Linked DNA regions of Homo sapiens: region 1 is linked to region 2. The links come from fine-mapping of genetic effects on plasma protein levels. A gene starts in region 2. The other region holds a variant in brackets. All regions are shown on one strand. Distances are from middle to middle.

Region 1 (2,500 bases), 96 kb after region 2:
ACAGAGACAGCCCCAAGCTTTAAAACGCATAGGGGCCGAGGTGGGCGGATCACTTGAGGTCAGGAGTTTGAAACCAGCCTGGCCAACATGGTGAAACCCCGTCTATATTAAAAATACAAAAATTATCTGGGCGTGGTGGTGGTCGCCTGTAATCCCAGCTACTCGGGAGGCTGAGGAAGGAGAATTGCTTGAACCTGGGAGGTGGAGGTTGGAGTGAGCCGAGATTTTGCCACTGTACTCCAGCCTGGGCGACAGAGCGAGACTCCATCTCAAAAACAGACAAACCAACCAACCACATAGGGGTTGATGGACACTCCCCCGACCCCCGATTATGGACTTACGCTGGCAGCCCAGGGGGTCGGTGGCGCTTAGTCCGTAGTGGTTGGGTTTGCACTGGTCGCATTTGGCTCCTTCCACGTTCTCTTTACAAAGGCACTGGCCGGCCACAGACCCTAAGGCAGGATCAGAGTGGCTCACACAAATGCCACCAGATATGGTCCCATCGGGGTCACATTCACAAGCTGGGGACACAGACATTCATTGTTTTAGTTAATTGCAAATTGTGGGAAGCCTGAAATATAAGCACGGCATTTTACTCATGCTATAACTATCTTGCTTTGTTTAAATAATTAAATGTTTAAATAATTAGACCACCTGGCAAGAGCTATTCAGAAATGTCTCCCAGATCTCTAGCCTTGGAAAACGTTGAATAAATCCATGCATATATTTTTAAAAGACTTTTAAATGATTCGAAAGTCAGAGGACCAGAGGAAGACTGCTGTTATGAAAATTAAGACTAGATTATGTTAAGAATAGACTGATTCTTCTGGGGATGATGAGAACGTTTTGGAATTAGGTAGATGGGATGGCTGCACAACATTGTGCTGGTGAACTGTTGTTCATTTAAAAATGGTTAATATTTTATGTTATGTGAATTTCATCTAAAAATAGATTTTAAAAAAGACTCTAAAGGTGAAAATAAGGTCAAAATCTCTGAAACGTGCTTAAAAAGTAAGTCTCTCCTCTATCACAGAAAAATATGTCACAAGGAAAAGTGACATTCTATTTTATTTTTCCTGGAAGAAACACCTGTAAGAAGGAAAGGGAGGGAATAGTGAGAAGTATTCATATCCTTGGTTTTGTTGGGGGGAAATCTGCTGACAGGTCAAGAGCTTGATGGAAGAGATTCTGGAAAATGGGATAAACAGTCACTTGCAGCAAAGGAGCCACAATGGTAGCAACCTTTTTCCTGTTGTTGTTGTAGACATTTGAACAACTCAAGGATGGTGTGTCATATGAAAAAGAATGTTGACAGTTTGAGTTAATTCCAGAGGGTAGAACCAGGAGAGAGTAGAAGTCACAAAAGGTAGCACTTGATTGAGTTTGAGGAAGAACTCTC[A/T]AATAGTTAGGGGTGCCCAATACTGCAGCGAACCCCTCATCATCGGAGGTGTCCAGGTAGATGTTGAAACAGCACTTGTGGCTTTGGTATGGATGACAAATGTGTTGTTGGGCATTAGATGACCACCAAGGTCTCTTGTACCTTTGTGGTTCTGTGTTTCCATGGGGTTCCACTTTTAAGGCGTGTAATAAAAATAAAAATATGAATATCCTGATTTTAAGGAACAGTCACATTCACATTTATACATGCTTGCTTTGGATTACTAAAAACAAAACTGTCAAGTCTAAAACCATGTCTATATAACCACCATTTAGGTTAGTGAGTTTAGTGGAAACAATTCAGTCAAACCAGTTGTTTCGCATTATTGAAGCAACTGGTGTTTGCTCTCTGACACAATCTTTCAAATTTCAATGATTTGTTACTTGTTATTGTTTTGTGACTGGTGACTTACTATGAAAAAATAGCATTGAGTTCTGTTTAGTTTGGAAAAGCCACAATTTTCTTCTAATTAAAGCCAGTTGCTTCTAGAAAGAAGGGAACAAACTGGATTCATCTTAATAGTGGCCAAAAGGAAAAAGCTACAATTTCTTTGGGAGACACTCCAAAGAATCAGTATTGAGTTCCAGAGAATAATTTAATTATGCACAGAAGTATCCTTTGGGAAAGAGATGTGGGAAGGGTGGATAGTAAATGTTCTTTGAAATAGCCTTATGTCATGACCTTTAGAAGTCTAATTGAATGTCTTGGTGTCACATAATTCTAGCAAACTTTTATTATCAAGTAGTTGAGTCTACCAAATCTTGGTTTTTCTGTATCAAATTTAATGGCAACTTAATTGTAGAAAACTTAAAATTAGTCAACTCTTATGCCTGGAATCTGCTTATGTAAATATTTAGGTTCAAACAAGGACAACTTAGAGAAAATTTATATGAGAATTCTAATCAATCTTCAAATACACATCATTTGTATATATACACATAAACATTTGTTTAGGTAAACTGGGAGAAACTGGGGTGTCTCATGATAGTAGTTTGTTACAAGCTCCTCATCTACCTTTTATGGAAAAATTCCTTGTTTACAAAGAATGACTTCTTACTTTCA
Region 2 (2,984 bases):
GATCTGTGAGCTTGGGAAGCGAGAGTGCGTGTGCGTGCACGCGCGAGGGTCACCGGCGCTTCGCTGGGGACGAGGCGCCGGGGCTCGCGGTGGACGCCGCTTTCCGGAGCTAGGGGAGCCCATGGACAGTCCCTGGGGCTCTGGAGTGGTTTCAAGGCTTCTCCATTCCAGGGAAGCGCCAGGTCCTGCTGTTTCTGGTGCCATCCGGAGACAAACAGAGATGGTTAATTAAAGCCACATGGCCCCCATCTGTTCCCAGAATGAAGCCTCCGCTCAGCTCAGGCACTCTCCTGGGCAATGGATTTTTGGAGAGCCCTCCTCGGTCAGCACCGCCAACCCCAGGGAACCTGCCCTCTGCGGTGGGGAAACCCAGGGTGAACCGGCCGAGGGTGCAAAACCCTGAGCGGGGGCCGCGGGAGGCCGCAGGGGCCGGGGCTTGGGCGCAGAGCCCGGGGGATGAGGGTCCGCGGCGCTCCGCGTGCGCTGTCTCCAGCCACCACCGAAGCAAGGGCGGTGGCGTTTAATCCCAGGGGCGTCATTTCCATCCAGTCCCTCTCCCAAGCCCCCAGGATCCCACGAAGGTGAGCAAGCAGCTTTTGGGTTTTCCTTCCCCATGCCCAAGTCCGTCCGCCTCCCCGCACCGTTTCCACGGAATTACCTAAGAAACTGAAAGCTAGCAACTGGAGAAGCCCCATGCCGGCTCCCTGCAGCCACGGGGACGCGGCAGAGGAGTGGAGAAGACGCCCGCCGAGCCGCCTGCCCTTTCTTCCCGTCTTCCTTTCTGGAGAGGTGGAAAGGAGGGGAAAAAAGGCAAATGTTCAAAGAGAGAAGAGGCGCCCTTCCATTTCCTGTCGCTCCCACGGAAGCGGGGGGTGGGCTGGAAAGTGGGGAAAATCGTGCAGCCACTTTGTTCTCCTCACCCGGCGACGCGAGCTCTCGCCCTGCTCCGGGAGCCCCCGAGCCCAAAGAAGGGAATTAGAAAGTTTAGCCTTGGGAGGAACAGAGGGAGGCGCCTCTGCTCATGCGCATACGGAGAGCCGGGGCTGAAGGGGCGGGCGGCCGCAACTCTGCGAGGACCGGGTGAGGTCCCGGTCCCACCCCCCGGGGCGCCTCTTTTGTTTGAAAGCCGAATCTGCGATCGCTGCGGGGCTGGGGCGCTTCCAGGTCCCAGGGCGGGTCCGCCCCGGGGTGCGCGTCCCAGAACGGCGCGCGGCGGGGCCGTCCAGCGAGGGGGGCGGATGCGTGGGGGCGTCTCCGAGGTGGGTTTTCAGGTTGCCCAGCCAGGGGGCCGGCGGGACCTACCGCGGACTCGCGCATTTACGTTCGCAAGAAGTGAATCACCAAACGTGCCCACGGCTAAAACTCTCGTGCGGTGCGCTCGGGGAAGGCGGGTTAACCCTTTAGAAACAGGGTCGACCTGTCGTGTTTGTTCTTTAGAAAGTGACACTTCCTCTCCGCCCCTAGTATCCAAGAGCTTGGGATGGGCGCGACATCTACAGTGTCTTCCTAGGAAGGAGGAGAAGCTCTGTGCGCCCTGCAATTCTTTGCGCACACATTTATTCAGGACCTATCTGTAATCCCTGTTACCCAGGTGGTCACGGCATTGAATTGAACGTCCAGTTCTGTTTTTAAAAAATCTACTTCCAACATGGTGCAACTCCATCTCTACTAAAAATACAAAAATTAGCTGGGCGTGGTGGCGGGCGCCTGTAATCCCAGCTACTCGGGAGGCCGAGGCACGAAAATCGCTTGAACCTGGGAGAAGGAGGTTGCCGTGAACCGGGATCGTGCCATTGCACTCCAGCCTGGGCAACAAGAGCAAAACTACGTCTCAAAAAAAAAAAAAAATCTTCCTACCTATATCCAGATGATGGCTTTAGCTCAGGTAATTCCTCAAATGACACTATTATTGTTACTGACTCCGTTTCCCATCTCGCCGTGGAAGAGTTGACACAGCCAGGAAGTGGAAATCTCTCATGAGAGGCACTTCCCCACAACGCTCATCTCGACGATTCTCCATGGTGTGCAAATGCTGAGGTGGGGAGAGGGCCTCTAATGAAGGGTCTCTAACAACACAGTGTAACCTGCCTGGTGAAATTAGGGGTACATAGAAACTCACCACCTTCTAGGGGTTGGAGAGGGAAAAGAGGTTGGTGACGGGACCCCACCACCCATTCTGCTACCCTTAGCAATGGACAGAGTCAAAGCTTGGAGTCCTGCTCTGGGCAAATGTGGCTGGAATTCAGGGAGTATAGTTAGTTGTCAGTCCAGTCAGGAGACTTGGCTTGTTTTCCAGTCATTTCCGGGAGAAGAGTTTAAGCGGCTAGCTGGTCAGTTTTTAACTTAGCTGTAACGAAATAAGGCCCAGAGAAGTTTAATCATTAGACCATAGAGTCAGCTGCTTTACGAGTTCGTAAGCCTGCACGAGTCTGAGGCAGGCGGGAGCCTTGGGGTCTAGGTGAGTGAGGCATTAATTATTCACCAAATCAGCACTTGCCCTGCTACAGCCTGGGGAGGTTTTGCCTCTGCTGAGGCTTAGGATCCTCTGCGCCGGCTGGGTAGCCTGAAAGCGCTGAGAAAGTCCTTGCTGTTGGGAGGCTGTAGAATTGCAATGGAGGGTCTTCAGGGCTTAATTAAAAGAAAAATATTAAAAGGCAAATGTCTTTTCTTCCTGTTGAGCTTTTAATACCCTGGGCCAGAGTTTCGTATTTTCATGTGCACACACTGCAAGCATCTTTCAGCTCCTTTTCTTTCTTGAGCCTAACCTCTGCTCTCACAGCAGCTGAGCCCTCCTTGCTACCTGTCCCTGCTCAGCGTCCTCTCCCCTTGCAAAAGGTCATTTACTTTCAGCACTGTTCAGAAGCCTACCTGCTCTCCTGATCACCTCACTTGCAGTAGTAAATTGAACACTACTGAGAAAATTAGGTTTTTAAAAATTTGCCTGTATATGTGCAGGGGGAGGAGTGTGTGTAACACTCACCTTC

Alleles and levels. Positions count from the first base shown, and alleles are read on the strand shown. Strength reflects both the effect of a copy and how common the allele is.
For the plasma level of the protein whose gene starts at base 971 in region 2, allele T in region 1 goes with a lower level than allele A (strong association).

The links. PIP is the posterior inclusion probability: the model's chance that the variant is causal. The UK Biobank Pharma Proteomics Project read protein levels with antibody pairs (Olink). The fine-mapping took linkage between variants from a reference panel, not from the people measured, so its PIPs are less certain.
Region 1: its variant is fine-mapped to the plasma level of the LAMB1 protein (UK Biobank, PIP above 0.99).

What each region holds. Positions count from the first base shown.
Region 1 is chr7:108,098,062-108,100,561 of GRCh38, forward strand. It overlaps LAMB4 (laminin subunit beta 4), which reads right to left. Exons shown (of 34, transcript NM_007356.3): 11 at 342-521. Among named protein-coding and RNA genes, the nearest start is that of LAMB4, 31 kb to the right of the region's middle. The variant A/T (reference allele first, on the strand shown) is at 1,400.
Region 2 is chr7:108,002,191-108,005,174 of GRCh38, forward strand. LAMB1 (laminin subunit beta 1) reads right to left here and starts at 971. Exons shown (of 34, transcript NM_002291.3): 1 at 921-971; 2 at 659-781. The coding sequence starts at 695.